2 separate regions of the Homo sapiens genome follow, and region 2 is linked to region 1. The links come from fine-mapping of genetic effects on gene expression. A gene starts in region 1. The other region holds a variant in brackets. All regions are shown on one strand. Distances are from middle to middle.

Region 1 (15,712 bases):
AATACAGAAAACATGCTCAGGATGGAAGAAGTAAAAAATTATAAGGAAAATACATTGTACGTTTTATATACTAATTCGTTGTTAGCATTCAACATATTTTATTACAGTTTTTGAATAGGAAGGACATTCCTATGAAATAAAATTCAAAAGGTAAAACTGAGCTCACAGTGAAAACACCCTCTTTGCCCCCTCAACAACACAGTTCCCCTCCCTGGGTCATTGTTACAAGTTCTTGTATGTCTTTTCCAGAGAGACTCTAGCATGTAGAAGTAAACATACACATGCTTATGTATATTCATACATGTGTGTATTCTCCCCTTTTTAATAAAAACACAGACACAAACACTCCCAACACTATACTTTTTTTTTTTTCACTTAACGATGTATCCTGAAAAGTCAGTCCATATCAGTACACAGTTTCCTTATATTTAAAAACGAATGCATAGGCCGGCCGCGGTGGCTCACGCCTGTAATCCCAGCACTTCGGGAGGCCGAGGCGGGTGGATCACCTGAGGTCAGGAGTTCGAGACCAGCCTGACCAACATGGAGAAACCCCGTCTCTACTAAAAATACGAAATTAGCTGGGCATCGTGGCACATGCCTGTAATCCCAGCTATTCAGGAGGCTAAGGCAGGATAATTGCCTGAACCCGGGAGGTGGAGGTTGCAGTGAGCCGAGATCACGCCATTGCACTCCAGCCTGGGCAACAAGAGTGAAACTCTGTCTCAAAAAACAAACAAACAACAAAAATGAATGCCTAATATTCCATCATGTGGATGTACCATACTTTCTTTAAGCAATACATTGGGCCTGTTTAAACTTTTTATTCCATTTCATTAATCTGGCTGTCAATACATTGCACACATACATAGTGTTTCGACTGTAGTAGCTTTAAATATATGTTGATATGTGTCAGGGCTTGTTCCTACCAACCCCCAGCCACTACTATTCTTTATCTGAATTTTTCTAGCTATTCTTGTTTATTTTTCCATCTGAACTTTAGAATCTGGTTATTTTTTTTTTTTTTTTTTTTTTTGAGGCGGAGTCTCACTGTTGCCAGGCGGGAGTGCAGTGGCGCGATCTCAGCTCACTGCAACCTCTGCCTCCCAGGTTCAAGCGATTCTCCTGCCTCAGCCTCCTGAGCAGCTGGGACTACAGATGCGTGCCATCACGCTCAGCTAATTTTTGTATTTTTAGTAGAGACGGGGTTTCACCATGTTGGCCAGGATGGTCTCTATCTCTTGACCTCGTGATCTGCCCACTTCGGCCTTCCGAAGTGCTGGGATTACAGGCATGAGCCACCACGCCTGGCCAAGAATCTGGTTCTTAAAAGTTCCTCTTGGAATTTTTCCTGGGATTACGTTAAACTGGTAGCCTATTTTAGGGAGAACCGATATCTTTTAGATATTTAGTCCTCCTGCCCCTGAACATGATAAGCTTTTCCATTTATTTAGGTCTTCTTTTTGTTGTCTTTAGTGATGCTTAAAAGTTTTGGTTTTTTTTCACATAGATTTTGTACATTTTCTGCTAAGCATTTTCCTTGATGTTTAATCTTTTTTATTGTTAGTAAACAGCTGGAGTCCTTCCTTCCTTCTTTCCTTCATTTATTTATTTATTGAGTTTCCTTCTGTTGTGCAATGGCGTGATCTCGGCTCACTGCAACCTCTGCCTTCTGGGCTCAAGTGATTCTCATGTCTCAGCCTCCCAAGTAGCTGGGATTACAGGCGTGCAGCATGCCCGGCTAATTTTTTGTATTTTTAGTAGAGACAGGGTTTCTCCATGTTGGCCAGGCTGGTCTCGAACTTATGGACTCAAGTGACCTGCCTGCCTTGGTGGCCTCCCAAAGTGCTGGGATTACAGGTGTAGGCCACTGCGCCCAGCCTTCCTTTGTATTTTCTAACTGGTGGTTGTTTGCATAGATGGCGGCTTTTGATTCCCATTTATTAATATTAAACCCACACACCTTACTGAATTATTTTATTAGCTGTAGTAAATTTTGTCAGTTAATTATTTTGTGTTTCTCACTTATGCAATCAAGTCACTTGAAATGATGATAATTTTACCTATTTTCCAGTTAATAAGCCTCTAATTTCTCTCTCTTAACTAGTGGTGTTGACTAAACCACCAGAACAACGTTAAATGATGATGGTAATAGTATATGTGATTATCTTATTCTTGAATTCAACAGGAATACATTTCATGTTTTCCATTTAAGCATTATACTATCTTTGAGGTTGAGGTGGATATATCTGATCATGCTAAGAAAATAGGCATCTATTTCTATTTCACTACAATCTAGTTATTATCCAGATGGATATTGAATTTTGTTGAATCCATTCCAGTAGCTGAGGAAATGGATTATGACTTTTCTCTTTAAATCTATGACCACCAAGAACACATCTGCAGTTGAATGGGGTTGGGTTTATCGGCTCCTTGCAAGGAGGAGGAAAGTAAACCAAAAGGAACTATGGGATGTCTCACAAGAGGGTGTTAAAAAGGACTCTTTATAGGACAGGGCTTGTTTTAGTAGATTTGGGGGAGGTTGCAAGAAAATGGGGATTTCCTCTCAATGGGATGATGTCGGGAAGTAGGGGCAATTCTATAATTGTGTATATTTTAGATAATTCTTATGGAGAAGACGAGAAGAATAGAGTGAGGCTAAAGCTATGACGGTGAAAAGCATTAGTCATTTGTATCAGCCAGGATGGGGAGGTTTCCTGCGGTTTGGATAATGTTCTTGTTTTGTCTGTGCTCAGAGATCATTATGGAGTGGTCTGATCTCTGCCAAAAGACACGAGGGATTTCTGGGAGCACCACAAGCTAAGACAAAGACATGGAACAGAGTCTTTCCTAGAGCTTTCAGAGAGAGTACAACACCTTGATTTCAGACTTCTACCCTCCAGAACCGTGAGACAATACATTTCTGTTGTTTTAGGCTACCCTGTTTGTGGTATTTTCTTACTGCAGTCCTGGAAAACTAATAAAGATGCCAACTTTAAAGTATACAGAGTTGCCAGTTGCGGTGGCTCACGCCTGTAATCCCAGCACTTTGGGAGGCCAAGGTGGGCGGATCACGAGATCAGGAGTTCAAGACCAGCCTGGCCAATATGGTGAAATCCCATCTGTACTAAAAATACAAAAATTAGCCAGGCGTGGTGGTGCAGAGCTGTAGTTCCAGTTACTCGGGAGGCTGAGGCAGAAGAATCGCTTGAACCCGAAGAGCCGAGATCGCACCACTGCGCTCCAGCCTGGGTGACAGAGTGAGACTCCATCTCAACAACAATGGCAACAACAACAACAAAACAAAGAACATACAGAGTTTTTCAAGATTCTTCTGGGGGCCCGTGAGCCCAAAAATTTGCTTTAGATCAGTGTTTCTCAAAAGCTTACATAAACCATGTGATTCTCATGCATTTCACTCCCTTAGGGGTTTATTTTAAAAGTCATTTTCTGGGCTTCTTCCAGACCCACATAATGGGTGTGGGCCCTGTATTCTGCATTTTCAAACAAGTTTCCCAGGTTCTTCTACATCCCAAAACACTGCTGAAGTAGGAAGATACCTGGGCTGTAGACAAAAATTTGGATTTAATCTTTACCCAGTCTATTACTGAGCAAGTCTTGTCAATTTAGGCAATTTAAGAGTTAAAGTGTACACTCTACTGGGAAAATCCCCGGTTCCAAGTCGAGTGACTCTGAAATTTATTCACTGCACAGCATTTGTAAAATTGCTTCTTCTTTTTTTTTTTTTTTTGAGACAGAGTCTCACTCTGTTACCTAGGCAGGATGGAGTCCAATGGCGTGAGCTTGGCTCACCACAAGCTCCGCCTCTCAGGTTCAAGCGATTCTCCTGCCTTGGCCTCCCGAATAGCTGGGATTACAGGCATGCACCACCATGCCTAGCTAATTTTGTATTTTTAGTAGAAACGGGGTTTCTCCATGTTTCTCAGGCTGGTCTTGAACTCCTGACCTCAGGTGATTTGCCTGCCTCGGCCTCCCAAAGTGCTGGGATTATAGGCATGAGCCACCTCGCCTGGCCCAGAACAAACTTCTTAAGGGTCTGTCTAGCTCTGACATTCCACAAGGCTATGAAATGGTCCAGGAAGAGTTAGGGCAGGATGGCAAATTCAGGTGCCTTTGACTTTGGGAAGATGGAGGCAAAGCACTTTGTCCATCCAATTACTTTGTATTTATTTATTTATTGTTTGTTTGCCCAGACTCCAGTCTTGACAATTACTCTGCATTTTAAAACACTGTTGGGGCTAACCCTACCAACCTCTCCCCTGACCCGAGACAGAGTTAGCAGCTAATGTAGCTACTTCCCACTTTCTGTCACCCCTGCAAACAGGGCAAACAGGGATGCTGTATCTGGAAGCTCTAGGGGCAGGAGCCAGTCCTATTTATCCTTTGTAAAACACCTAGCAAAACGAGATGATTTTAGGTCAACCCTCCTGAAACTTGGCTTGGCTGCAGTGACAAGTTTTGTACCTACAGGAAGATCAGCATTTCCTTCCGTTCTTCCTCTGCCAATCCATCCCTGACTGGTCTTTTGCCCTCTTTTGAGTAAGAAACTCCTTGTTTTAGAGTGTTTCTGGATTAACGCTGGAAAGGGACCAACTCTGAGCCCATAGTGTGGATCCCATGTAACAGTACTCTTACCAGAAAAGGGGTTTCACCCCAGACCCCAAGGGCAGGTTCTTGGATCTTGCACAGGAAAGAATTTAGGGTGAGTCGCAAAGTACAGTAAAGTTTAAATGGTTTATTAGAAACTAATCTATTAGAGTAGGGTATCCTCAGGAAGCAAGAGGAAGAACGCCCTACCTCAAATGTAATGCTTGTTTGTGTAGGATATTAGAGCTAAGAATAGTGTATTTTATTACAAAGGCTTGTGATCGGCTTGTGACAGACTATCTGTATTGTTATTCTCTTGTGCAATTAATTTCAGAAAGAATTTATGAGTGGACTATTATCTTTAGAGCAAAATATAGTTTAAATTAAGAATGCCTTTTTCCAGGCCAGGCGCCATGGCTCAAGCCTGTAATCCCAGCACTTCGGGAGGCTGAGGTGGGTGGATCACTTGAAGTCAGGAGTTTGAGACCAGGCTGGCCAATATGGCAAAACCCCGTCTCTACTAAAAATATAAAAATTAGCCAGGTAAAGTGGCGCACATCTGTAATTCCAGCTACTTCGAAGGCTGAAGCAGGAGAATCACTTGAACCCGGGAGGCAGAGGTTGCAGTGAGCCGAGATGGTGGCATTGCACTCCAGCCTGGGCAACAGAGTGAGACTCCATCTCCAAAACAAAAACAAAAACAAGAATGCCTTTTTCCATTAACTTGTTTCCTCAACAATAAACATCTTGTGATCAAGAGTGCTGACTTCCTGGGAATGCAACCCAGCAGGTCTTGCCTTCCCCAGCCTTTATTTAGGATAGTGTCACTCTAGTTAGGACACCTCTGACAATACAACTCAAATCATTGGTAGCTCATGAAAAGAACTCACTCTTTGACTAAACTTGAGTCAGGCTCCTCTCAGTCCTCGTTTTGACTAGGCCCTGACCCTGGGCTGGTCCTTAACTCACTTAGTTCAGTTTTAGCAAGAATCCTGCTGAGTCAGTTCAGCAAAAATCCCCTACCCTTGGTATCTGATCACCTCGGCTTGTGTTCAGCAAAAATCTCCCTAACCTTTATGTGTCCTCTTAGTAATTTTCCATCTGCTGACTTCCACCCTGTTGCTTAACTATAAATCTCCACCTGTCCTTGTATTTGATGTTAAGCCTGATTTTTTTGCCCCTATTGCATAATCCCTATTGCAGCTGTTCTTGAATAAAGTCTCTCACCTTAACAATTGTTTGAATAATTTTTCTTTTAGTGCCATTTCCTACTGTAACATGCTGTGTGAGTCTCAATTTTCTGATCCATATAATGGAGAAACTAATACTTCCATCTCCGAGGCATGGAGATCAACTGAAATTAAAAATAACTTGCATATGGCTGGGCAGGGTGGCACACACCTGCAATCCCAGCACTTTGGGAGGCCAAGGCGGGCAGATCACTTGAAGTCAGGAGTTTGAGACCACCCTGGCCAATATGGCGAAACCCCGTCTCTACTAAAAATACAAAAATTAGCCAGGTGTGGTGGTTCACGCCTGTAGTCTTAGCTACTTGGGAGACTGAGGCAGGAGAATCGCTTGAACTCAGGAGGTGGAGGTTGCAGTGAGCTGAGATCACACCACTGCACTCCAGCCTGGGCAAGAGAGTGAGACTCCATCTCAAAAAAATAAAAATAAAAATAAAAAACTTGGATAAAGTGTAAAGATAAAAATCACTATTCTTGGGCAGGGGTCCCAGCTGTAGCCCAAGCTGGAGAACTAGACTGGCTTGGCATTAATTTGCTTGGGGCAGGAGAAGGGTCATCTGAAAGATATGGGAAAAGCTGAGGTTGCCCCTGGGAAGACTAGGGAAGCCTGCCCCCGGGCCAGCCCCTTGAATATGTCCAACTGAGGAGGTGGAAAGAAGTTCAAGGTAGCCAGGGAGACAAAAGTTGTTCACTTTGGTGCACATGTGGAACCAACATGGGACAAACAGGCATTTTGTGCTCGTCCAGGGAACATGACTTCTTCGGCTCCCACACAATTTGTAGCTGCAGGAGTGGCAGAGCACCAGAGTGGATGCAGGCCCAGATGTTCTCTGGGTTAGGTGTTAAGGACTTGTGGGAGTCATCAGGCAGCAGGCATTTGCCCCAGTGTCAGAGGTGTTTAAGCCAGAATTACTCCATCTTGAATAAGGGCTGGGTAAAATGAGGCTGCATTCATAGGAGGTTAGGCATTCTAAGTCACAGGATGAGACAGAAGGTTGGCACAAGATACAGGTCATACAGACCTTGCTGATAAAACAGGTTGCAGTAAAGAAGCTGGCTAAACGCCACCAAAACCAATATGGCAATGGGAGGGACCTCTGGTGGTCCTCACTGCTCATTATGCACTAATTATAATGCATTAGCATGCTAAAAGACACTCCCACCAGCAAGCACCATGACAGTTTACAGACGCCATGACACCATCATGAAATACTCTATATGGTCTAAAAAGGGGAGGAAGCCTCAGTTCCGGGAACTGCCCACCCCTTTCTCTGAAACTCATGAATAATTCAACCCTTGTTTAGCATATAATCAAGAAATAACCAAAAAATGGGTAACCAGTAGCCCTGGAGCTGCTCTGCCTATGGAGTAGCCATCCTTTTACTTCTTTGCTTTCTTAATAAACTTGTTTTCACTTTACTCTATGGGCTTGCCCTGAATTCTTTCTTGCATGAGATCCAAGAACCCTCTCTTAGGGCCTGGATCGGGACCCCTTTCTGATAACACCAGGAGACACCCTGGGTGGATTTCCTGAACCGACCGATAGATGAGCCTTCCACGCGGGAGACCTGGATCCTTATCGTCTTTGTGGCCCCTTCCATCTGCACGTGCGGACGAGGTCCGGGTCGCACTCGGGCGGTCAGCCTGGCACGCACAGCGCCGGCGTGCAGGGGGCCTTGGGTGCCACCGAGTCCGGGAGGAAATCTAGGCCGCCATCCGTCCGGAGACTGGCACCTGTGACCACCACCCAACATGTATTGAACAAGGGCTTGGAGGTCCTTTCTCTAAGGCCGCACCGATAAACGATTACCGACTGTTGACCTCACGGCCCCTTCGCTTCCGGCCGCACCGCCTCGCTGCCCACGCCTGCGCACTCAGGCACCGCAGGTAGGAGGAACGTACCAACTGCGAGGCGGGGGGTGCGCGCGAAGACCCCCGCAGGCTGCGCTTCCGGAAGTAACCCCTGGCGCATCCCGGAATCCAGAGCGCCCACTACGGCCTTTGGCCAGGCCCCCTGGGCGCGTTCCGGGAGCTCAGGCCTGCGGCGCTGGGAGAAGCACGCTGGCCAACAAGTTGGGTGGTGGGCACGCGGCCCAGGGGTCAGGGGCCGCCAGGCGGCGGGCGGCGGGGCTGCGGCTCTTACCTGCCGAGGAGGCGCCGGCTCTGCGGTGCGGAGTTGCGCCGGACTTCCCAGCTTGGCCAGTGGCTCCGCAGGCTGCCGGCTCCACCCCTCAGGTAAGCGGGGACTGGGCCGCCGAGGTTCAGGGAAGGGGGCGGCTGTCGGGGCCCGTGCCGGCCCCGGGGGGCCACCTGCTGGGCCAGCGGTGCCCTCGCGCCGAAACACACTGGGAGAGGCCAGAATCTTCCGGAACAGCCAGCCCTTACCCATCTCTCCCTCTGTGCCGAGAACTGCCCTGAAATACTGTGGTATTAATTAACTCGTTTAACACTAACAATCTCATGAGGCGGGTGCTGTTACTATTCCCGTAATGTAGACGAGGAAACCGAGGCGTGTGCTGGAGCAGGATCACGGCCGTGCTCAGAGACGGGCTCTGGATGCCATGCTCTGACTCCATTGTTAGCCCTAAGCTTCCAGAAAGTAGCAGAGTGCTGCCGTGTCGTTTGTAACAGATCTCACTTTGTGTCATTTTTTTTGCACAGTATGAAACCTAATGATGCATGATTATTATTTAAAACATCTTGCTTAGACTTTATAAGTAGTCAAATTTGCGTGTGGGACAAAACCCCAAAACATGCAATGGCTTGCTCTCCTCTTTTCCTTTCACACGTTCATCTCCTCCTATCCCTTTCTCTCACCACCTTTCAATCTTCTCACAGATGTTGTGGAGGAAGATGAGACTTGAGGGCCCAGCAGGTGCTTAAAATCCCCTGCCTGGTGGGGGTGGAGTAGACACTCTGTCCCCCTGCAGTGCTGGAGTTGAGAGCAGAGGGGCTGGAGAGGGACTGGGCGGAGTGAGAAAGGCCTGGCATAATCATGGAATGCCCAGGGTGGGGTTCTACTTCTCTTGCAGGCACAAGAGAAGTAGAAGAGTGGCCGCTTTCCTTCTGGGCACGCACTTGGGAAAAGGCTTGGTGAGAGCAGCGAGAAGAATAGGTCTAATTTCTTGAGCCAGTGTGCGGAGGTGCTTCCCAGCCCAGGCTAAGCCAGATCACTCAGCCAGCCGCTGGCTGCCTTTACAGATGTACGGCTCCCCGTGAGCAATCAACATGCCTGGCTCTCAGGCATAAGCTGCCTCACTTCCCTTCTGCACAGCACTCCAGGACTTGCCTGCTACCAGACCCATCCTACTTTCTCTGTCAGGAAAAATGAGAGTTCTTCCTGGTCTCTTGAGGCCAATCCCTTCCACCGCCTGTGCCCTGGATCCCTTTCTCCAGGAAGCTTCTCTTCCCTGTGTAGTTAGCCTCCCCGCTCTTCCCAGGTCACCTTCTCTCTGTTTAGGGACAGAGCCAAGCCTTTTCCCTCCCATCCCCACCTCCAGCATTCCCGGTTCCTGCTTCTCCCCCACTTCCTGCTGTACCGCCCACTGAAGGGACCTTTGACCCCGCTGACCACTGCTTTTGGAAAGTCTTTTCTTGGTTTCCCTAACTTCACTTTACTTTGGTTTTTCCTTGTCTCTCCCCTCTGCCTCTCAGTCACCTTTGAGATCTGCTCATCCTCTCACCTCCCTGTATTGTCAGCATTACCTGGGCAGCCCCCTCTGGTGTTTTCCTTCAGTTTCTCTAGAAACTTGCCTGAAGATTTGCCCCAAAATAGCCCACATGGACCTGTATGAGGAAAGAGGCTCACTGTGGAGGCGCTCTCCATCATTCCTCCTCTTCCACTTGAGGCTTAGGCATGGGCCACCTCCTGAACAGCTCTCCCCACAGTCTCCTCCATGCATTGTGCCATCACCCCGCCCTGCCGTCACCCCGGCCTGGCCCGCTTTCCCTTTTGCCTCCCAGGGATGTGCCTGCTTCCCATGTGGCCTGGCTAGGGCGCTTTCCTGACTGCTGCCCACATGATCGACTATGGGCAGGCGTGCAGCCCAAAAGGCCGTGCTTCAGCTTAGAAGCCCTTGGAATCTTGTCTTGTTGTGGTTGTAGGCCTCCAATGTGTTGTCAGCTGTGGTGATGTGTGTCACAAGTAACTTCTTTTTTTTGAGACAGGGTCTGGCTCTGTTGCTCAGGCTGGAATGCAGTGGTGCAATCACGGCTCACTGCAATCTCCACTTCCCTGCTCAAGCCATCTTCCTGCCTCAGACTGCCAAGAAGCTGGGACCACAGGCACAGGCCATCACAGCTGGCTGATTTTTTTGTATTTTTTTTGTAAAGACAAGGTTTCGCCATCTTGCCCAAGCTGGTCTCAACCCCCTGAGTTCAAAGCAGTCCACCCACCTTGGCTTCCCAAAGTGCTAGGATTACAGGCGTGAGCCACCACACCTGGCCACAAGTAACTTCTTAGTTATAAAGTACTGAAATTTATCAATGACTTTCTTTTTAAAATTTACGTTTTAGATTCATTTGGATTCAAGGTTGGCTCTCAACAGTGCCAGCTGCACTGTCATCCTAAAGTACTTCTGTGGAAGAGAACATGGTGGTGTCACTGTTGTACCAGTGATGACACAAAATCCCAGATCTACCTGACGGGCCTGCGAGGGTTGAAGATTGTGAAGCAATAGCCTAAGGTAAACAACACCTTGCAAGACGGGTCTAAGCTCTTCAGTGTAATAGACCCTGTTTCTCAGTAGGTCAGCCCGGGGGCCCCCCAGGGATCCCTCCCCGCCTCATAGCACCATACCCCACTTTCCCCCTGGTCTAATGATGAGCCCATTTCTAGGTTGTCGTCTCATCCTGAGCCCCAAGTGCCAGCCAGGCAGCTACTCTCCTCTGTTCATATCTTGAAGGCAGAGTGCTGGCTCATAGTAGACATTTGATGAATTTCTGTTAAATGATTGAGTGAATCAAGAGTATCTGCAGAGTATAGCATTTATGATGAGACAAAGCTAATTGGGAAACAGAACAAGATTGGTGTCCTGGGGTAACTGGGTAGGTCTTAAGATGAAGATTTTGGGGTGTGCTGGGTGCAGTGGCTCACACCTGTAATCCCAATACTTTGGGAGGCTGAGGCAGGGGGATTGCTTGATCCCAGGAGTTCAAGACCAGCTTGGGCAACATGGTGAAATCCCGTCTCTACAGAAAACACAAAAATTAGCTGGGTGTGGTGGTGCACATCTGAAGTCCCAGCTACTTGGGAGGCTGAGTTTGGGAGGATTACTTGAGCCCAGGAGGCAGAGGTTGCAACAAGGTAGATCATGCCACTGTACTCCAGCCTGGGTGACAGAGCAAGACCCAGTCTGAAAAAAAAAAAAAAAAAATACTTTGGAGGGTGACCCCGTTCTGCAGATGGCCTCTGGAGGCCTGGATGTTCACACTCTGGGGTTGCAGTTTCCTCAATCATGAAGTGAGAGTTAAGTCCCCTCCAGTGTGACATCCAAGAGCAGTTGTGGGCCCAGGACAGCAGCCTGTGTTTCCTTTGCAGCTTTACCTAGCCCCTACACAAGCGCCACCTTGCAGTAGGCCTTCAGTTCTTGGATTTATTGGTGGCTGAAAGTTCTTGCGAGATGGACTTGAAGTTGTTGCCACTTAACCCTTCTGAGGTTCTTCTGGCTGGGAGGAGCTCCTCTTTCTGGCCAGAGTCTTGCTTGAGCCTTCTTAGCCATCTCGTCACCTGTTATAGGCAGCCCTGCCATCTCTGGTGACCCTTTTTAAACATTACCCTGGTGAGTAATGTTTAGCATCACTCATTGTCAGATCTTTTTTATCTTTTTTTTTTTTTGAGTTTCAGTACCAGTAAGTCTTTATGTATTCATTATATCTTTCCAGGGAAAGGAGAAGGGAAGTGAAAAGGGTCAGCATGTGTGTTGCAAAGTGATTAGAAAATGGGAAAGGAAGTACCTGGTACAGAAAAATCAGCCATCCAATAGATGCACCCCAGAGATGGAGTAACCAAAGCCCAAGGGGCCCTGGTCTCCTGCAGTTCAGGACTGAGGGGCAGGGATCAGGGAAGGTACAAGCCTTTCTACCCTCCCTCCCTGCCCCTAAATTCAAGATTTCACATAAAGCTTTGGTTTCTAGCAGTAAACATGGGGTTACATTCATCTGTCTCCTTTTAAACAATCTTGTAGCCACTTTGACATAAGTTCTTGCACCGGGCCGGGCGTGGTGACTCACACCTGTAATCCCAGCACTTTAGGAGGTCAAGGAAGGAAGATTGCTTGAGCCCAGGAGTTGGAGTCCAGCCTGGGCAACATAGTGAGACCTTGTCTCTACAAAAAAATTAAAAGAATTAGTCAGGTGTGTTGGTGTACACCTGTAGTTCCAGCTACTTGGGAGCTGAGGTGGGAGGATCGCTTAAGCCTGGGAGGTTGAGGCTGCAGTGAGCCAAGATTGTACCACTCCACTACAGTCTGGGCGACAGAGCAAGACCTTGTCTCAAAAAAAAAAAAAAAAAGTTTCTTGCACTTGCGTAAAAGTTCCTAAGTGACTTAGATATATACTCATATTCCTTTGCCTGGTCTCCTGACCCCACTTCTACGTGGAAGGCCCCCGGTTGCTTCTCCCTTCTTTGAGATTACAGATTAAGTAGGTTTGATCCATCCCAATAAAGCAGTGTCTTAAGTGTTTGGGGTGAACCACATTGACTCAGGTTTGGAACAAGAGATGGAGGGTTCCTGACTTCTTCAGGCTGTTCTCATACATCATTTAAGAGTTGCAGAGACAGCCTGAGAATTCAATATATGCGTGTGTGGGTATGTAGGTTTTCTTTTGGGGTAGGTGAATGGAGAAGAAGGTACGGTAGAAGTCAAGTTTTTAGGGCAGAAGATCTGGTCCAAAATAGGAAATAGAGGAAGGGGAACACAAAGAAAGGATAGTTCAAAATCCCTACTTCAATATGGGGGTCCCCCAAACTCATGTTTTACATCCTTTTTGCCTGGTTCAGAACTTTCTGTAAAGATGCTTTGGCCATTTTTCTCTCAATACAAAAAAGTTTGTAAACAATAAAACCCCAAAAAAACATGGAGAAAGACCAACACAGTATAGTTACACAAACTAGGCCACCTAGCAGTCACCAACTGCTACAAAGTCCAGACAGATACAGGAACTAGAGGGGGCAGCGTCAGGGGGAAACAAACCCAGGATCAGATGTGCACCCCTGAACACGTTCTATCGTGCTTGTCCCATTCTAGCCCAGCAAGGGAGGTTTGTGGTGATCCTATAGCGTGTAAATGAAGCCCCCTTTTCTCCTTAGTTACCGTGATGCTGAATCAGCGCTGCAGCAGGGCAGGACGCTGGCTGTGCACACCACATGAAGAGGCCCTCTCTTACGGGGCTCCCTTGAACCCAAGAATTTGGAAACGTTAAGAATTTTAGTTCTTGCTTCATATATCCTTCCCTGGACAGCACAGGATGGGTACAGGGGCACTGGTCTTAAAATTTAGCGTTCCCAAGTCACGTCTTTTACGAATACACACGCATACCCTCTGTTGTGGATGGTAGGCCTAGCACAGTCCAGTGAAGGACGGACCTGGTGTGTGAAGCAAGTCCCATGCCCTAGGATTAGGAAACCCTCACCTAACCGTGGTGTCCCTTGGTGTCTCTGCACCTTAGTCTAATTTTCAATCTTCCACTAGCCAGAGATCAAGTCTTGATGCTATCCAGTTGAAACCTAGTCTCCCGTGAAACATTTTCAAGGTCGGGGGGTTTCAGGAGGACACTGTGGCAGAAAAGCCAAGTCTCTGGCAAACATGAGGTAGTTCAATAGGCTGGGTCCTCCATATAGTTGCTCTTCGTGGTTAGAAAAACAACCAGAAGTATTCCTGCTATGCAGGCCTGGAGCTTCTGCCGACTTATCCCTGAGGTTGCTCAGTACCTGAGAAGAGTAAAGAGTGAGGGACCGAGATTAAAGTAGACAACAGCACAAACAACATTAAGGGGAATAAAAGCTAAGATGCACGGACGTATCGGTGACACAGCTAGTGCTGTGGGCACCCGGGAGACGGGGGACCGAGGTACGGTATCCAAGGGAGCGAATCAGTCCCATCGCACTGGCCTGGAGCTGGGTGGGGTGAGTGTGGGAGCCGCAGGTCTGCAGCGGTCCCCCAGCCACACTCTCTGCCTGTCTCCGCCACCCATTGCTTGGGACACTTCCCAGCACCCTGTCCCAAGAGTGGGCTGTGAGGAAACAAGATGTGAGTAAAGCCTGGCCTGCCCATGAGGAATTTCCTCCCTCAGAAGGTAGTGGCTGTGGGTTGGGTCCGTCATCTGGCCTCATGCTTAATCATTTCACTCCAGCATGGGAAATATTATGATTACCTGTCCTTCTTAAAAAGGAAAACAACTTCCCTGTCCAGGCCACTTTTGAAAGCTGGAGATTCTAGGGGTAGTGCCTCAGACAAAGCATGTAGGCTCCTGAGTGATTTCCCCCAGCTGCCCTCGTTTGCATTTGGATAGAGCTTGGTTGGAGTTCCAAGGGCTGATGCTGGGAACCTTGCTCTGGATGCGAGGCCTGCCCCTGGAGGGAGCCGCGGAGGACTGGCAGCTGCAGATGCTGGAGCAGGCCAGCCTGTGGCTGGGCCGTAGCTTCCTGCTGGCAGGCTTCCTGGTATCGAGCAGCTGCCCCAGCCTGGAGCAGGCGGCCAAGGGTGAGGGCTGTTCCCCCATCCCTTGTTTCGCCCACTGCCTCGACTCCCTGGTGAGAAACTTTCTGTGTCACCCTCACAGTGTCCAGATCATCCTGGGCACTGCCAGGGCCACCTGCAGCCATTTCTAAGGCTCTGTGGAGGCCCAGGGACTCCTCACCCAGCTCCAGCGCCAGCGCAGCCTCCTAGCCCACCAGCCCTTTGAGGAGCTCTTGGACCACTGGGTCTCGGCCTACCACCTGCTGGAGTGGCTGGTGGAGCAGCAGCAGCCCCTTCAAGAGTACAAGGGCAGGCACCAGCTGGGGAAGGCTGGTGTTGCCTTGTCGGCCACATTCTGGAGCCCGGCAGACAGCCTCAGCAAGCTCCTGTAGCCCTTCCAGATGGTGGTCCGCGAGGCGAGTGCGGCACAGGCCTCTCTGAGCCAGGTGCTGCCCCAGCTGCGCTACCTGCACATCTTCCTGGAGCAGGTTCACACACACTTTCAGGAGCAGAGTGTCGGGGAGAGGGGCGCAGCCATCCAGCTGGCTGAGGGGTTGGCCCGGCAGCTCTGCACCGACTGTCAGCTCAACAAGCTCTTCTACCGCGAGGAGTTTGTGCTGGCCACCTTGCTGGACCCTTGCTTCAAGGGGAAGATTGAGGCCATCCTGCCATGGGGGCCGACCGACATTGACCACTGGAAGCAAGTCCTCGTGTACAAGGTGAAGGAGATTAGAGTGTCTGAATACTCTTTGAACTCCCCAAGTCCCCTGCAAAGCCCCAGGGGTCTGTGCGTGGACCCCACCAGGGTAGCCAAGAGCTCCGGGGTGGAGGGGAGAAGCCAGGGGGAGCCTCTGCAGAGCAGCAGCCACTCTGGGGCCTTCCTGCTGGCCCAGAGGGAGAAGGGCTTGCTGGAGAGCATGGGGCTGCTGGCCTCTGAGAGAAGCGGGGGCTCGCTGTCCACCAAGAGCCACTGGGCCAGCATCATTGTCAAGAAGTATCTGTGGGAGAATGAGACCGTTGGAGCCCAGGATGACCCCCTGGCTTACTGGGAGAAGAAGCGAGAAGCCTGGCCACCATCTATCTGTCTTACCCCCCACAGGAGCCTTCTCTGAAAGCATCTTTGCCTCCCTGAACAGCCCCACCCTTGTAGAGCAAAACTCTTCTCTCAAGGTGGAAGCC
Region 2 (15,712 bases), 880 kb before region 1:
CATATAAAATGCATCAGTAACTGCAAAAGATGTAATTTCTGGAGTATTGTAAATATTGATACTTTGAAATAAACTCTTCCATCACCCTTTAATGTCACCAATGGAATCTAAGAACCCCGGCAATTTTAAACCCACCATTATTCACTTAAAAATACATGAACAAATTCTTCTTTGATAGCTGGAATTTTTATATCATTCCTTTTCACCTTGAACTTCTATTTCTATTCCCACTTTGCCCACAGAATTTTATCCTAATAGAACATATTTGTATGTTTAGAAGCCTTTTACTGATCACTTCCTCTGCCACTCTGCCACAAAAATGTGTATGTAAGTTGAAAGTTTAATTTTGCTTTCATTTCTAATAACCACAGGTCTCTAAGTGTTCATTTTTTTTCTGGCTTAAGTTATCCTTAGTGATTATCACTATAGAATGATAAATAATTATCCAAGATAGAAAATAAAGAAACTTTGGGAAATGTATCTCTTATAAGGATGAATAGAAATTTTTTCTAATTAGTTTACTTATCTAGAAATCAATATTCTTATTGTAGAATGTACAGTTCAGAATCAATTTTAGTCTTTTTCATTTTTATATATGAAACCTCATTTACATTGGGAAACCTCATTTACATAAATATGTAGATGGGCTGGAAGAAGCTTTGTTATGGAACTGTCACTCAATTCTGAACTTCTGAATTATATGCCACGAAGATCACATGGTCAACATGATCATCAAAAACTGTTTCTAATGACCTATTAGCTCACAACATGATTAGGTTCTTTCAATTTTGTTAAAGGTAAAATATTGCTAACAACCTAAGCTGCAAGAGAACTTGCCATCCAGGCCCCAGAGTGACACGCTGCAGGACATGTATCTTAAAATTCTGAATGTTTTCTGTTTGGTGACCTGGGGGCTTTATGCCTCTGAGAAATGCTTTATAGTAAGATGGAGATGGGCAGGAAGTGACTGTTTTGTTTTGTTTTTTAAGAGATGAGGCCTTGCTCTGTTGCGTAGGCTGGAGTACAGTGGTGAGATCATGGCTCACTGCAGCCTCAACCTCCTGGCTCAAACCACCTGCCACCTCAGCCTCTAGAGTAGCTGGGTCTACAGGCAAGTGCTACCATGCCCAGCTAATTTTTAAAGTTTTTGTAGAGACGAGGTCTCCCTATGTTGCCCAGGTTGGTCTCAAACACCTGGACTCAAGTGATCTTCCCATCTCGGCCTCCCACAGAGCTACGATTACAGGCATGAGCCACCATGCCCAGCAGCCTGTTGTTTTTTTGTTTTTTTTTTTTTTTTTTTAAATAATGGGAGATGTAGATGAGAAGCCACATTTCAGGGACCACATGCATTGTGTGCTTTTGGCTGATCAGTTGGACAAGAAGAGATGGACTAAGGACTGGAAATTGTGCCCTCAAAGCCACCTGTATTATGTCCCTCTTGGGGAGTACCCTTGTCCCCTCAAGAGCATGGGTACCTCAGCTTGAAGACGAGTGCCTTCAATACCTGGCCCTACTTCAAGACCCAACTCGGGTGTCCACCACTCCATCAAGCCTCTTCAGTGCTCTCAGCTGGACGTAGCTGTGCTCCTCCCTGAGCTCTAGGCATTCGCCTGCTCCTCTTTGTGGCACATACTCTACTCTTCCTCCCTCAAAACAGGCAGTATGTACACACTTTCACCTCCCCTCCACTTGCTAAACAGCAGGGAACGCCAGCGTTTCCCACCAAAAATGTCTCCCCACCCCGAACAACTTTTCAAAGAGTATTGACAACCAAGCTGCATTCATTTATAAGCAGGAATTTGTTCTCCCATTTAAAAAATTAATCGAAGACACATACATTGTGGGAATATAGTTTATGAAAAAGGTAACATTTCAATCCAGTGGGGAAGAGTTTAAAAGGAATGGAGACAACTGGCTTCCTGATTAGAAAGGGAAAAAAGCTACTTCACATATTTCACATCAAACTCCTGATGAACAAAAAAATTTATGTATAAATAAGAAATTCATACCTAAGTTTTACAACTTTAAGCTGAGGAACAGGCTATCTGTAACCCTATGGCACTTCAGATATTCCTTCTGGAGGATGTTCGGTTATTCGTGCCAAACATATTAAATGTGCCCAACTCTTATCAACTATAAATTTTGCTATAAATTGTTTTGAAAGGATTCTTGTAGCTTGCTGTTGCCATCATTTGGCTATAAGAAACTTATTTAATCTGTGATTGGTTTTTAATCTTTGTAATAATTCGTGTTCATAAGAACTCCTGTGGGGTGGGGGAAATCCTATAAGTTGTTTTCAAATGTATTAAACCTTTGTGAAGACTGAATTTATTAGTTACTGAAAGTGATATAATGCTATATTTTTAGACATTTAGTTAAAATAAGCATTTAATTACTTAGACTTAGCAATTTTCTTTTTGTTTTCTAGGGCAAAAAATATTTTATTTTGTGTTTCAAATATTTTTATAGGTTTTTTTTGAGATGCTCACAGACCTAAGATCTGTGATCATAGTGTTTACTAAATAAAATAGCTTGAGTAAATATTTCTACACTTGATACGAAACCCAGATTGGGAGGCTGAGGCGGGTAACGTCAGGACAAACTCCTGACGTCAGGAGTTCGAGACCAGCCTGGCCATCGTGGTGAAACTTCGTCTCTACTAAAAAATACAAAAATTAGCTGGGCCTGGTGGCAGGGGCCTGTGATCCCAGCTACTCGGGAGGCTAAGGCAGGAGAATCGCTTGAACCCGGGAGGCGGAGGTTGCAGTGAGCCGAGATTGCGCCACTGCACTCCAGCTTGGGCGACAGAGTGAGACTCTGTCTCAAAAAAAAAAAAAAAAAAAGTGATAAATTTGAATACATAAAAGTTAAAAACTGCTATTACACACACACACACACACACACACACACAGACACACACACAAAATATAAAAGTAAACCACAGGCCAGGCGTGGTGGCTCACGCCTGTAATCCTAGCACTTTGGGAGGCCAAGGTAGGTGGATCACCAGAGGTCAGGAGTTTGAAACCAGCCTGGCCAAAATGGTGAAACTCCGTCTCTACTAAAAATACAAAAAAATTAGCCATGCATGGTGGTGGGCACCTGTAACCCCAGCTACTCAGGAGGCTGAGGCAGGAGAATAGCCTGAACCCAGGAGGTGGAGGTTGCAGTGAGCTGAGATAGCGCCACTGCACTCCAGCCTGGGCAACAGAGTGAGACTCTGTCTAAAAAAAAAAAAAAAGTAAACCACAAACTAGGAAAAGTATTCACATACATACTGTTAGACAAGAGCTAATATCCTTAATATTTTAAAAGCTTTTTACAAATCAATAATAAAAAGACGAGTAATCCAAAAGAATAACAACAAAGATTATTCACAGAGTAGTAAGACATACTAGTAATCAATAAAGGTATGAAAATATGCTCAACATCACCCTTATGGAAAGTCAAATAAAAACATCCAAATATTGTGTTTTTTCTACTTATTACTTTGGCAAATGATAAAAAGATAAATAATACCTATTACTGGTAAGAGTGTGTAGAAACAAACATTCTCATGCTTAGAAGGGTGAAGGCATGTAAATTGGCACAAGTGATTTGAAGGGATTTGCCAGGATCTATTAAATTTTTAAGTGGGTGTATCCTTTGACCCAGAAAATCCATTTCTAAATAAATTCCAGACAAGTGCATGAAGATCTATTTATAATAATCTTTACTGAGGCGCTGAAACTTGTGAACACCCTAAATGCACATCAATGGCAGAGTATTTAAATAAATTATGAAATCAATACACAGAATACTACTGTCAGCTATGAAAAAGAACACGACAAATTTATATATTCTGACGTAAAAATGTCAATGATATAGTATTGAAAAAAGAAACTTGCCAATACTTCTATATTGTCTGATTTTTTTACAATGATAATGTGTATATGTATTACTTATATAATTAAGGCCATGTGTATGTAATCACATGCACATAAAATTGGAATGAATAAACTGCTGACTCTTGAGAGAAAACTATGGGGGACTTTCACTCTCTCTGTACTTTTTCTTTGTGAAATTAAAAACCAGTATTGCCACATTAACTCTCTCTACCAGCTCAAAGTAAATAAATATTGGTTGACACTGACTTTCCAATCTTCGCATGGCTATACTGTTAGGTTTTTTTAATTAAAAAAAATTTTTTTTAAAGTTATACATGCACATAGGCTAGTGGAACATAGTTGAACAGTTCTTCAAAACTTCTTTTTTTTGAGACGGGGCTGCATCTTCCACCCCTTGGATTCAAGTGATTCTCCTGCCTTAGCCTCCTGAGTAGCCGGGATTACAGGCATGGGCCACCACACCCAGCTATATATACATATTTTGTGTACTTTTAGTAGAGATGGGGTTTTACCATGTTGCCCAGGCTAATCTCAAACTCCTGACCTCAAGTGATCCACCTGCCTCGGCCTCCCAAACTGTTGGGATTAGAGGCGCGAGCCACCACACCCGGCCCAAAACTTATTTTTTAAAAAGTTCTTTTCCACTCCTCTGCCCCCATTTCCTGCTCCCCGAAGCAATCACTTCAATGATTCCAGCTGACTCTTTGGTCATTTACCTCCATAACTCTAAGTAACACACTTATATTGCTACTCCTTGAGTTTTCAATTTTAAGCATCATCCATTGACTTCCAAGGGATGACGGTCAGAACCATCTCCTCCGAACTGATCCTGCCAATACAGTTTTGTTGTAATTTTAGTTGGATCAATACTGGGTGTTTACCTCGCTAGATTATATCAATGTTATTTATAACTAAACTCTGTAGTATTCAGTGAGTGCCTCCTACGCCTGTAAACCTTCTTGCTTTCCCTAGATCTGACACTTATTTCTTTTGCCCAGCTTACGACTAATTATCATGAACTTAGCCCCAAACTCCCCCAACCTTACCTTGCTGTGTAACTCTCCTTTCCAAACATTCAAATATATTGGGTATTTATCCATTTCATCTACTTGAAGACAAATTTCTGGGACCTGCGGAGGTGCCCCACTCGACTGGCTGCCTCTAGGTGCACAGCTGACCTCTCGGAATGCCCCTGGGCCGTGTGCCTGGAGTGCCTCCACCTCTCTCTCAAGTTGGGGTTTGTAATGCCTCCTTCTTGGTTTACTTCCTCATTTTGGCAAAGCGCCTGCCCCAGTTTGATAAAGGATTTGTGGAGACTTGAATATCTCAAAATGACTCAGTTTCACTCATATTTAATCGAAATAGTCTGGCTAGACATTGAATTATAAGTTGGAAAATATTTTCCTTTGGAATTTGAAAGGCACTACTCTACTGTCTTCTAGCTCCCAATGTGGTTACAAATGTCTGAGGCCATTCTAATTCTCATTTCTTCGCATGACTCTGTTTCTCTTCCCTGGAAGCTCGTAGGATTTCCTTTGTTCTCAGTTGCTCTGAAATTCCGTGCTGAAAGTGTAGGTCTATTTTCTTCCAGTGCTCTGGGCAGCTGGCTCTTTCAATCTAGAAAATTACGGCTTTAATTGGCGGGACCTTTTCTTGAATTATTTTGTTGATAATTCCCACCTGTTTCTGCTACTCTTTTTCTGGATATTCCTATTATCTGGATGTTGGACTTCCATCCTTCAGTTTTCTTATTCTTTCCCTATTCCCTTCCATCCTTTATTTTTATTTTTTTCCCTATTTTCTTTTCTTTTAGCTTTATTTTCTGGGATGTGTGCTTATCCTCCAACACTGCTCCTGAGTCTCTAATTTGTACTATTACATTTTTTATTTCCAAGAGTTCCTTTCTATTCCTTTTTTAAAAAACAAGCATTACACTTTTGTGTCATGAATGCATTCACTTATTTGATTTAAGGATTTTACATGTGAGTATTCATATATACATTTTTCCCTCTCTGCATGGTCTCTGTTCCTCTAAATGTATTTTTTCTGATTTCTTTACTTGTCTCTGTACACCACAGAGTTTTCCCAAATGTCTTCTCATTCTTGGTTGTCCCCGGAGACTTAAAAGGGGACACTCAAGAGAACAGGGAGCTCAGTGCATTTGGGTGAGGCCTGCTAACTATGGGACTCTGTTTGGCCCATAGGGTGCTTTGGCCAAGTCATTTTACCCAGAAACCTCTTGGGCTGGTCCCAAAAGTCTCCAGATAAGCCTCTTCAAATATCCTGCCCAGTGGGTTTAATTCTGGGTGTTGGCAACATTTCGGGAGTCGAGTTAGGGAAGAAGGCTGGAGGTCTCAACATCTGCACGTCAAGTCTCCTTCTTCCCGTTTTCAATATGGTGCCCCACCCTCAACTGTGCCTGGTGCCCATGTCCAGAGAGCCTCCTTTGCACCCTCCCCAGAGAATAAGCCTGTCACATATCAGGGCTAGGGAAAGGCAGATGCCTGCAGTAGGGACTGAGGGAGGCAATGGGAGCTGAGGGGAGCTTTAAGCGGTCTCTTTAAAAGATGTTCAGCCAGCTGTCTGTGTTTAGCCTCACTTCATTCCTATTTCCAGGGATCCCTAGAGTCTCTGGTACTATTAACTCTTGAGCCCCAAGCAGGTGTGGGGGTGCAAATTGGGTTTCTTCTCAGTTTTCCCCAGTACCAATTTCAGATTCAGCTCACCACATCTATCCACCTGCTTCAGGGCTGAAAAACTTCGTTGCTGTTTCTCCTTTCTTTTTAAAAGTTTCTTCACTCTTGTTTTAGAAGGATTTGGGAGGCCGGATGTGGTGGCCTGTAATCCAAGCACTTTGGGAGTCCGAGGCGGGCAGATTACCTGAGGTTGGGAGTTCAAGACCAGCCTGACCAACATGGATAAACCCCATCTCTACTAAAATACAAAATTAGCCAGGTGTGGTGGCACATGCCTGAAATCCCAGCTACTGGGGAGGCCGAGGCGGGAAAATCACTTGTATCCTGGAGGCGGAGGTTGCAGTGAGCCAAGATCGCGCCATTGCACTCCGGCCTGGCAACAAGAGCGAAACTCCATCTCAAAAAAAAAAGGAAGGATTTGGGAAGGTGGGAATAAATACATGTTCAATCTGCCCTGCTCAACTCAATCTTTCATTGTGTACTGTTTTAAAAAATATATTTTTACTGAATAAGGAGTAATACATGCTCACATCAGAACATTTTAAAAAACATAGAGAAATATGGCTTTGGTATGTTTCCATCCAGTTTTTTTTTAATCTACTTTTGCTTACATCACTGACCTCACTATAGTTACATTTCCCACTTCTACATCCTTAATCCTCCTATCAACTGGATCATTCCCATCAACATTTCAAACAAGCTTTAGCAATCCCCATCTTAGGCAAACAAGAATCCCCCCAACTGTCCCATATTTCCACTCCCCCACAGCTACACTTCTTGAAATGACTGTCAGCACCTGCCATCTCTACTTCCTCGCCTCCCACCTGCTCCTCACCCACTGACTATCAGGCTGCCACCTCCACTAAGGTACCAACGTTTGTCTTCCTAAGGTCACTGATGACTTTTAGCTTGCAATCCAATGGACCCTTTTTAGTCTTCCTGTTCCTAAACCACACAGCAGAATACGACACGGTTGGGCATACTCTCTCCTTCTGGAAGCATCCTTCTCTAGAAATACCCAACAAGGCAGTATCCTAATTCTCCTGCTACCTTTCTGGCCACTCTTTCTGTTTCCCGTGATTCCTCTGGCTCCTTCTTTTTCCACAACAGTGGTTTTCCACCCTGGCTGCAGATGAAAATCACCTTGGAAGCTAAAAAATACTAACATCCGGGCCCCATCATGAACAACATATTCCAAATCCCCGAATCTGCCCCAAAAGCCAGGGTTCTGCAGGGCATGGCTTGTGTTCTCCTCTCTTCCCCCTCTACAGACTGAGCAACCTAATCTAACTCTGCTGCCGACACCCAAATGTCCAAATGTGCCAAGGCCAGATGTCTCTAGCTCAGACCTCGGTTCTGAACTCCAGACTCCTTTATTCAGCTGCTTTCTCAACACCTGCTCTTTGATGTCTCACAGGGATCTCAAACCTAATGTGTTCAAAACGGAATTCTCAGTGTTTCTCCAAATCTGAACCTTACATTACCCTCCCTCTACTCTTACTTAAGCCAGAGGCCTGGGGGCCACCCTTAGCACCTCCCCAGCCCTCCTATTCAACACCCACCAATCCCTAAGGCCTTCCTAGTCCACTGCCAGAATATATCTTGACAACAGCCACTTCTCTCTCAGGGCGATGCCAAGGTTTCCTACCTGGAAGACGGAAAGAACCTGCAAGTAGTCTCCTAGCTTCCAGACCATCCCCCCTGCAGTGAGTTCTCTACGGAGCAACCAGAGCCCTACTTAGTCTTCAGGTTTCCACTAGAAATTCCACATCCTCCAAGAGGCCTTTCTGACTTCCCAAACTCAAGGGCACCTTCCCTGTCGTGTGTCTCGCAGCCCTGGATGCTCTGCGTCTCAGCTTTGTCACAGCTGGTGCCCGTGCTTTCATCTGTGGGGGGTGTTTTGGTTGTTAATGTCAGTCGCTCCACAGGAGTTAAGTCTGAGGGCAAGGGCCTCAGGGTTAATATAGTTCTTGACACAGTACCTGCTACCAAAGAGATCTGATGAACTAAATAAACATATGAGTGAAACTTATGGTTTCAAAACTCTTCATAAATGTGATTTTAGTGTGTAACAGTCTATCATACTGTGATTTATATTTGTACATCTTAATCTATATTTTGGATTCTTTTTCCTGCTAGACTCTCAGGAAGTAAATTATTAGGTCAAATGTAAGAACATTTAAAATATTTAAAATATACTTAAAAATAAGCCAGGTGCAGTGGTTCATGCCTTTAATCCCAACACTTTGGGAGGCTGAGGCAGGTGGATCACTTAAGATTAGGAGTTCATGAGCAGCCTGACCAACATGGTGAAACGTCATCTCTACTAAAGAAAAGTAAAAAAATTAGCTGGGCGTGGTGGCACACACCTGTAATCCCAGCTACTCAGGAGGCTGAGGCAAGAGAATTGCTTGAACCAGGAGGTGGGAGGTTGCAGTGAGCAGAGATCACGCCACTGCACTCCAGCCTGGGCAACAAAGTGAGGCTCCATCTCAAAAACAAAACAAAACTATATATATATATATATATATATATAACTATATATAGTTATACATATAGTTATATATATAGTTATACATATAGTTATATAGTTATACATATAA[CTATA/C]TATATATATATATATATATATATATATAGTAAAGAATACATATATATTTTAAGACTAGAAAGCATCAAATTGCTTTCTCGAGAGACTGAAATGATGAACCCTCTGAGTGGCAATGTCTGAGCACACAGATTTCAGCCATGCCTTCTGGTTCGCTTTACTCTTTGCCAACTTGCTAGGTGAAGATGGTGCCTGGCTTCTCTGGCCTCCATGGCCACCCTTTCAAGGCCGTGAATGAATGGGAGCCCCTGTTCTGAGTATTTGGAGGGTTGACATCTGAATCATCTTTACATCTCTTTGCCCTTGGGAAGCCAACCATTAAATGATAGTTTATTGAATGAATTTACTTAGCCAATTCATAAAATTGTCATGTTTGGTATATTTGGAATTATGAGAAGTCTCAATTTTCTGGACTTTTACCCCTTTGTCTCATACTTTTGGTCTGGCCCATGGCTGGATTTGCTGCCATTCTGCAAAAGGAGAAGGCGCTTGGATGGACAGGTTACCACTGGAGTGCTACGGCTCTGATACCTGCAGTTTTGCAGAACCAGCCTGCAATGGCGAGGCCGGGGCCTTTGGTTTAGCACAGAGGTGCGAGTGTGCGGCCCACTCTGAGGGGCAGCGGTACCTATGTCCTCCCCTTTCCTCCCACTGCAGACTCCCAGGGCCTGGAGATGGTGACTGGAACAAATGACACATTTCAGCCACACAAGGAGGCCTCTGTGAGGCCGCTTCTTCCAGCAGAAGCTCCTGTGGATGTGCATGTGTCAGAACAAACCCAGCCCAGGACCGAATGGATTTGGGTTATTTGCTTTTCAATTCTGGCCCCATTCTGTGGGAGGCCATCTGTGATGAGGCAGGGAAAAGCAGACAGAGAAAGGGGATCCATGCTCTTGCATCCAGCCCTTCCAAGAAAATTCTATGAGAGCAGCACCTGAACCGCAAGGCCCCGTTGGGACAGCAGATTGTATTTTAGGATTTTAACCACAAATCATCTCTCCTGACTTCTCATTCTCTGCCTCGCAACACTTCTTTCTCATTTCTTCCACCTAGAATCTCTCTATTTCTACTTGACCTTTGCTTTTGGATGTGGCCACTCAAACCTTTAAGGTTCAGACTGATTTTCCTCAACCAAAAGTTCACCCTGCCATGTGCCACACTGTCACCAATCCCTCATCCTCATCAATTTTTAAATTCCTCTTTTCTGTCTGCAGGAAGGAACTCAGGATTAGCCCCTCTCCTCGAGTTAAATTTTAGGCAAATCCATAGAAAGTGACACCACTGGATTTCTCTGGGACATGCCAGCACTTGTATTTTTACAGGGTTCTGTCTCTCCCAGAAGTCACCTTCCCACTCAGTACATGGGGCCAACATTACTCCCATGTTCCTAGAACATCTGCTTGGAGCCAGTTGATAGGTCCCCAAATCAACGACATTAGTTCCTAACAAGACCTGGCTGTTGGCCCCAAACAGAGTTCTCCAGGTGGATCATCCTCTTTCAGCAGACATGATCGCCAGTAACTCTCAGCTATGTTCACACGCCACACCTGCCCACGAAGGACAAGGATCAGCTTCTGCTGATGACCATCAAGATAAGTGATGCAAGTCCAAAGGCAGTTCCAAAGCAGGGGCTTCAGAGAGCAACCATGCACCACAAGAGCGCCTGCAGTGTGAGTGTGTGAGCCACTGACCCAGCTGCTGTGAATGGGGCGACCTCCAGGCACACCAACAGCGGCTGGTGTATACTGAGCCACTGCTATGTGCCAATCACTGTGCCAGGCCCTACGGTTAGATATTAGTGCCAGTTCTATTTTATAGATGAGGAAACTGAGACTCTGAAAAGATCAAGCAACTGAAATCCCACCCCCAGTAAGCAGAAAAACTATACTCAGATACAGTCAGCCTCACACCAGAGTGTGCACATGAGCCACACGGCCTCTGGTCAGTCTCGCTGGGTGCATATCTGCTGACTCCACCTACATGCTGTCCTGCTGAAGCTGTGCATGTAGGATGTTTCTGGTAAACTCCATGCCTGCCCCTTATCCCTCCACTGACCACCTGCAGGACTCAGGGATGTGGCCCTTTTCTCGGAAGTTCCAGGAATTTTAAGCACTAATGACTGCTTGACAAGGGACTGCCTTTCTTTGAGTTTCTTGCTTTATTTCCTACAGAGAGTGAGGTGACACTTGGTCATGTCAAAAAATTCCTGAGACAGTGAACCCAACGGCATTCCCATTAATCAACAAGTTGGGCCACTGGTGATCATGGCACTCCAAAGCAGGTCCTGGCACCTGCGGGCCTCCTTCCTGCTAACATATCCTGGCAGGGCCTACCTTGGATTGTGCTGCCTCATGCTGGCGCTTCCTGAGTACTGAAAGATCTAGAATGCAGAGCTGCAGATCACCCTTAGCCACTCACCAGCACTGGGATCTGTCGGCGTTTCGCCCTCCTCAGAGTCTTCCTGCTCCTGCATGGTGGGCCGCTCCCCGCGCTCCATCTGTGACATGAGGTCTGGTTTGGAAATTGCATAGTCTAGGCAGAAGAAAGGGAAAAAAATATGCTCTGGGATGAGGTTGCACTGGATGTTGTTAAGGTATCATCTGTGGGCACGTGATTCCAGGAGCAGCTCCTCGACTGGAGACCACAATGGAAAACCGCCAAGTCTCCCCTTCTTTTCCCAAGAGCCCACTGTGGGTGTGGGGGTGTGGGTGTGTGTGTGTGGCGGGGGGTAGAGGGATCGTGTTGCTCAGAGGTAGTCAAAACCTGCCCAGGTTTTCATGATAAAGGCAGAAGATATTTGAAATTTTGTAAGGTAAAAAACTAATCCTGGCCGGGTGCAGTGGCTCACACCTGTAATCCCAGCACATTGGGAGGCTGAGGCAGACGCATCACCTGAGGTCAGGAGTTCGGGACCAGCCTGGTCAACATGGTGAAACCCCATCTCTACTAAAAATGCAAAAAATTAGCCAGGCGTGGTGGCGGATGCCTGTAATCCCAGCTACTCGGGAGGCTGAGGCAGGAGAATCACTTGAACCTGGGAGGCAGAGGTTGCAGTGAGCCAAGATCACACACTGCACTCCAGCCTGGGCAACAAGAGTGAAACTCCGTCTCAAAAAAAGAAAAAAACAAAAAACTAATCCTGATAAAAATCTAAAAGCCATAAAATATCGATAGATTTTCTTACATAAAATAAGTCTGCAGTTCTTTGGAAATAAAGTTAAAAGATGAAGAAACTTGGAGGAAATATTATACATATATATACATGTTTGACATATGGCAAAGGGTTAATATCCATAGTTATACATAAAGAACTTCTATAACTAGTAAAATTGCAAAGCTATAAATAGGTAATTCATAGAAGAAATATGAATGGCCAATAAATATATAAAAAGATGCACAAGTTCACTGGGCACAGTGGCTCACGCCTGTAATCCCAGCACTTTGGGAGGCCGAGGCGGGCGGATCACAAGGTCAGGAGATCGAGACCATCCTGGCTAACATGGTGAAACCCCGTCTCTACTAAAAATACAAAAAATTAGCTGGGCACGGTGGTGGGCACCTGTAGTCCCAGCTACTCGGGAGGCTGAGGCAGGAGAATAGTGTGAACCCGGGAGGCGGAGCGTGCAGTGAGCCGAGATCGCGCCACTGCACTCTAGCCTGGGCAACAGAGCGAGACTCCGTCTCAAAAACAAACAAACAAACAAACAAACAAAAAAAGATGCACAAGTTCACTAATCATCAAAGAATACATATTTAAATAAATGAAGTAGGCTGGGCGTGTGGCTCACGCCTGTAATCCCAGCACTTTGGGAGGCCGAGGTGGCTGGATCACAAGGTCAGGAAATCAAGACCATCCTGGCTGACACGGTAAAACCCTGTCTCTACTAAAAATACAAAAAAAAATTAGCCAGGAGCAGTGGAAGGTGCCTGTAGTCCCAGCTACTCGGGAGGCTGAGGTAGGAGAATGGCATGAACCTGGGAGGCGGAGCTTGCAGTGAGCCCAGATCGTGCCACTGCACTCCAGCCTGGGCAACAGAGCGAGACTCTGTCTCAAAAAAAAAAAAAAAAAGTAAATAAATAAATAAATAAGGTATCATTTTTCACCTATAAAAAAGGCTAATATTTAAAATAGAAGAACATCAGCTCAGGCCAGGGTATGAAGTGGCATTTTCACACACCCTTGCAGAAATATCAACTGGCTCAGCCTTCTGGAGGGCACCAGGCAGTAGCCATAAAACTATAAATGTGCATCCTGTTTACTTGGCAATCCCACTTCTTAGTATCTGTCCTACTGTAACACACAGAAGTGCACAAATACACAGAAATGTTTATCATAACACTTTGTAACAGTCAACCTACTCTTCAGCAACAGCAGACAGGTCAAAAGCCCTAATGGTTCACGTGGAACACTGCACTGTCTTTCCAAGGAGTCCTACGTGTGCTGACATGGAACACTCTCTATCCCCCTACATTAGGTAAAATAAGTAAACGGGCCCCTCTGTGCAAACCCCAAACTGCATGTGCCTCAGTGCATGTATCATGCTTATATCTGCACATGCAAAAAAAGATGAGAGAGAACACAGGCCAAAGTGTTCATGGTGGTTACCTCTGGGGAGTGGTACTGGTGAATGGGTGGTGGTTGCTCTTAATTATATAAATCATTTAAATTGTTGAATTTTCACAATTAAAAAACACAATTAAAAAAAGAAAAAAGAATTTTAAAAGGAAGGGAATGTATCCTATGGAAAGGTATGTATAAAATTATCAATTCTAGCTGGAATCAAAGTTTCTATGTGACAACACATTTAAATGTTTAAGATAACGTTTTTTTGTATATACCCAAAAAGTTCTCCATATCAGAGAAACAGATATATATACACACACACATATATATATGTAAGTAAAGTATATTTTTCCAGGTTTTCATCGTTAAATATTCTTAATTAAAATCACAAGAATCTACAGACTTCGGGGTAAGGCAGATCTCCATGAAATAAGCATTTAACCTCCCTGATCACAGCCTCAGTGTTCAGGCACCTGAATCATCGAACAGGAGTGTGAACACCTGTCTTAGCCTCCGCAACATCTTGGCTGTGCAGGTCCAAGGAGATGATACTTGTACAGCACCTCAAATGTGGCTGGTACACAGGAGACACTCAGCACACTTTCCTTTCATTCTTTTTTCCTTCCTTAATAATAGTTTGCTGGACAAACTAATTTATTTAAAAAGGGGTCCCCATGGGGAAAAATATGATGACGGAGAGACCACTGATGTCTAGGTCTTTCTCCTCCTCCTTGCCCCAGCAGCTTCTCTGAGAGTGGGGTCTCAATTTACAAGCCATTCTGGCCTGGGCCGCACTGATGTGTGTGGGTATATGAGGGCGTTTGCTTTAATTTGTTGTGATCTCTACAACTCTGTTCTCCTTGCTTGCAACTATTGGCTCTGCTGGGGTTCAGAACTCCCTAAGTTTATGAATGCACTTTGAGCTGGCGTCCAGGCAGCCCCCAGCGAGCGAAGGCTTCTCCTTACCCATGGAAACCAGGGACTCGTAGTTGCCCCTCATCACGTTCTTGTAGAGCTCCTTCTGCCACTCAGACAGGTTTCCCCACTCCTGCTCCGAGAAGTGCACAGCAACATCATCAAATGTGACAGGGACCTGAAACCACACAATAACTCGGCTCAGACCCGCTGGAAGGCAGTGACAGGCCCACGGCTGGCCAATCCCAAGGCCCAAACTCCTGGCTCTGGGCCTTCACCTAGGACTTTTCTAGAAGTCTGGCCACTGTCCTGGCCCCAAAGAGTGAGGGGCCTGTCTTGTCGGATCCTTTTCCTCCCCTTCAGGATATAATTCTTGCAGCTCTAAAGCATGGTCTGTGGACCAGCAGCAATGGTGCTACCAGGTAACTTGCTCAGACCCCACCTTAGACCTACTAAATAGCTTCTGCATTCAGTAAGATCCCGGGGAGATCCATGTGCACAGTAACATTTGAGACATACCGGGCTAGAGAACAGAGTCTGTTTTCTCCCTACATATGGCTGTGAAAGGGGGCAGCAGCACTGAAGAAGAGAAAGCAAGCCAGTCCACACTCAAGCTCTTTCAGAACCTTCTGGAAAATAATATGGAAACCTAACTTCTCTAGCTTTTGAAAGGAAACATCTTGAAATCAGTTTTCCTGGCACTAACATGGCTTATAAGTGAACTCATAAAAATGTGGAGTGGGACAGATCCTTGTGATGTTTAACCCAAGCTCCTTCCTCTGCTGCAATTGTGAAGCTAATGCACCCTCAGTGACTGATGGTAAAGCCTCTCCACGGCTCTCATCGGCCTTCGCTTTGCCTTCGTAGTCTCTCACACCATGGACAGCTCTGCTGAACACCCTTCCAAACTGACAATCCCCGATCCCAGGGGCATTTCTGTACTAGCCTATACTCTCATCAACAGGAGAAATAATTTGATTTTGGCATGTCCTAGCAACTGGGATCACTGTATTTTTTCCTTTATCAACCACCCCTTTCTTTC

What was found.
Region 2: its variant is fine-mapped to the expression of LRRC61 in follicular helper T cells (Schmiedel 2018, PIP 0.95).

The regions. Positions count from the first base shown.
Region 1 is chr7:150,315,471-150,331,182 of GRCh38, forward strand. It overlaps LRRC61 (leucine rich repeat containing 61), which reads left to right and starts at 7,885. Exons shown (of 3, transcript NM_001142928.2): 1 at 7,885-8,090; 2 at 10,371-10,540. It overlaps ACTR3C (actin related protein 3C), which reads right to left and starts at 8,075. Exons shown (of 8, transcript NM_001164458.2): 1 at 7,999-8,075. It also overlaps the pseudogene ZBED10P. RefSeq lists enhancers at 7,105-7,214, 7,265-7,324, 8,645-8,714 and a silencer at 7,935-8,254.
Region 2 is chr7:149,439,390-149,455,101 of GRCh38, forward strand. ZNF777 (zinc finger protein 777) reads right to left here. Exons shown (of 6, transcript NM_015694.3): 3 at 14,722-14,848; 4 at 11,610-11,723. Among named protein-coding and RNA genes, the nearest start is that of ZNF777, 14 kb to the right of the region's middle. The variant CTATA/C (reference allele first, on the strand shown) is at 9,190.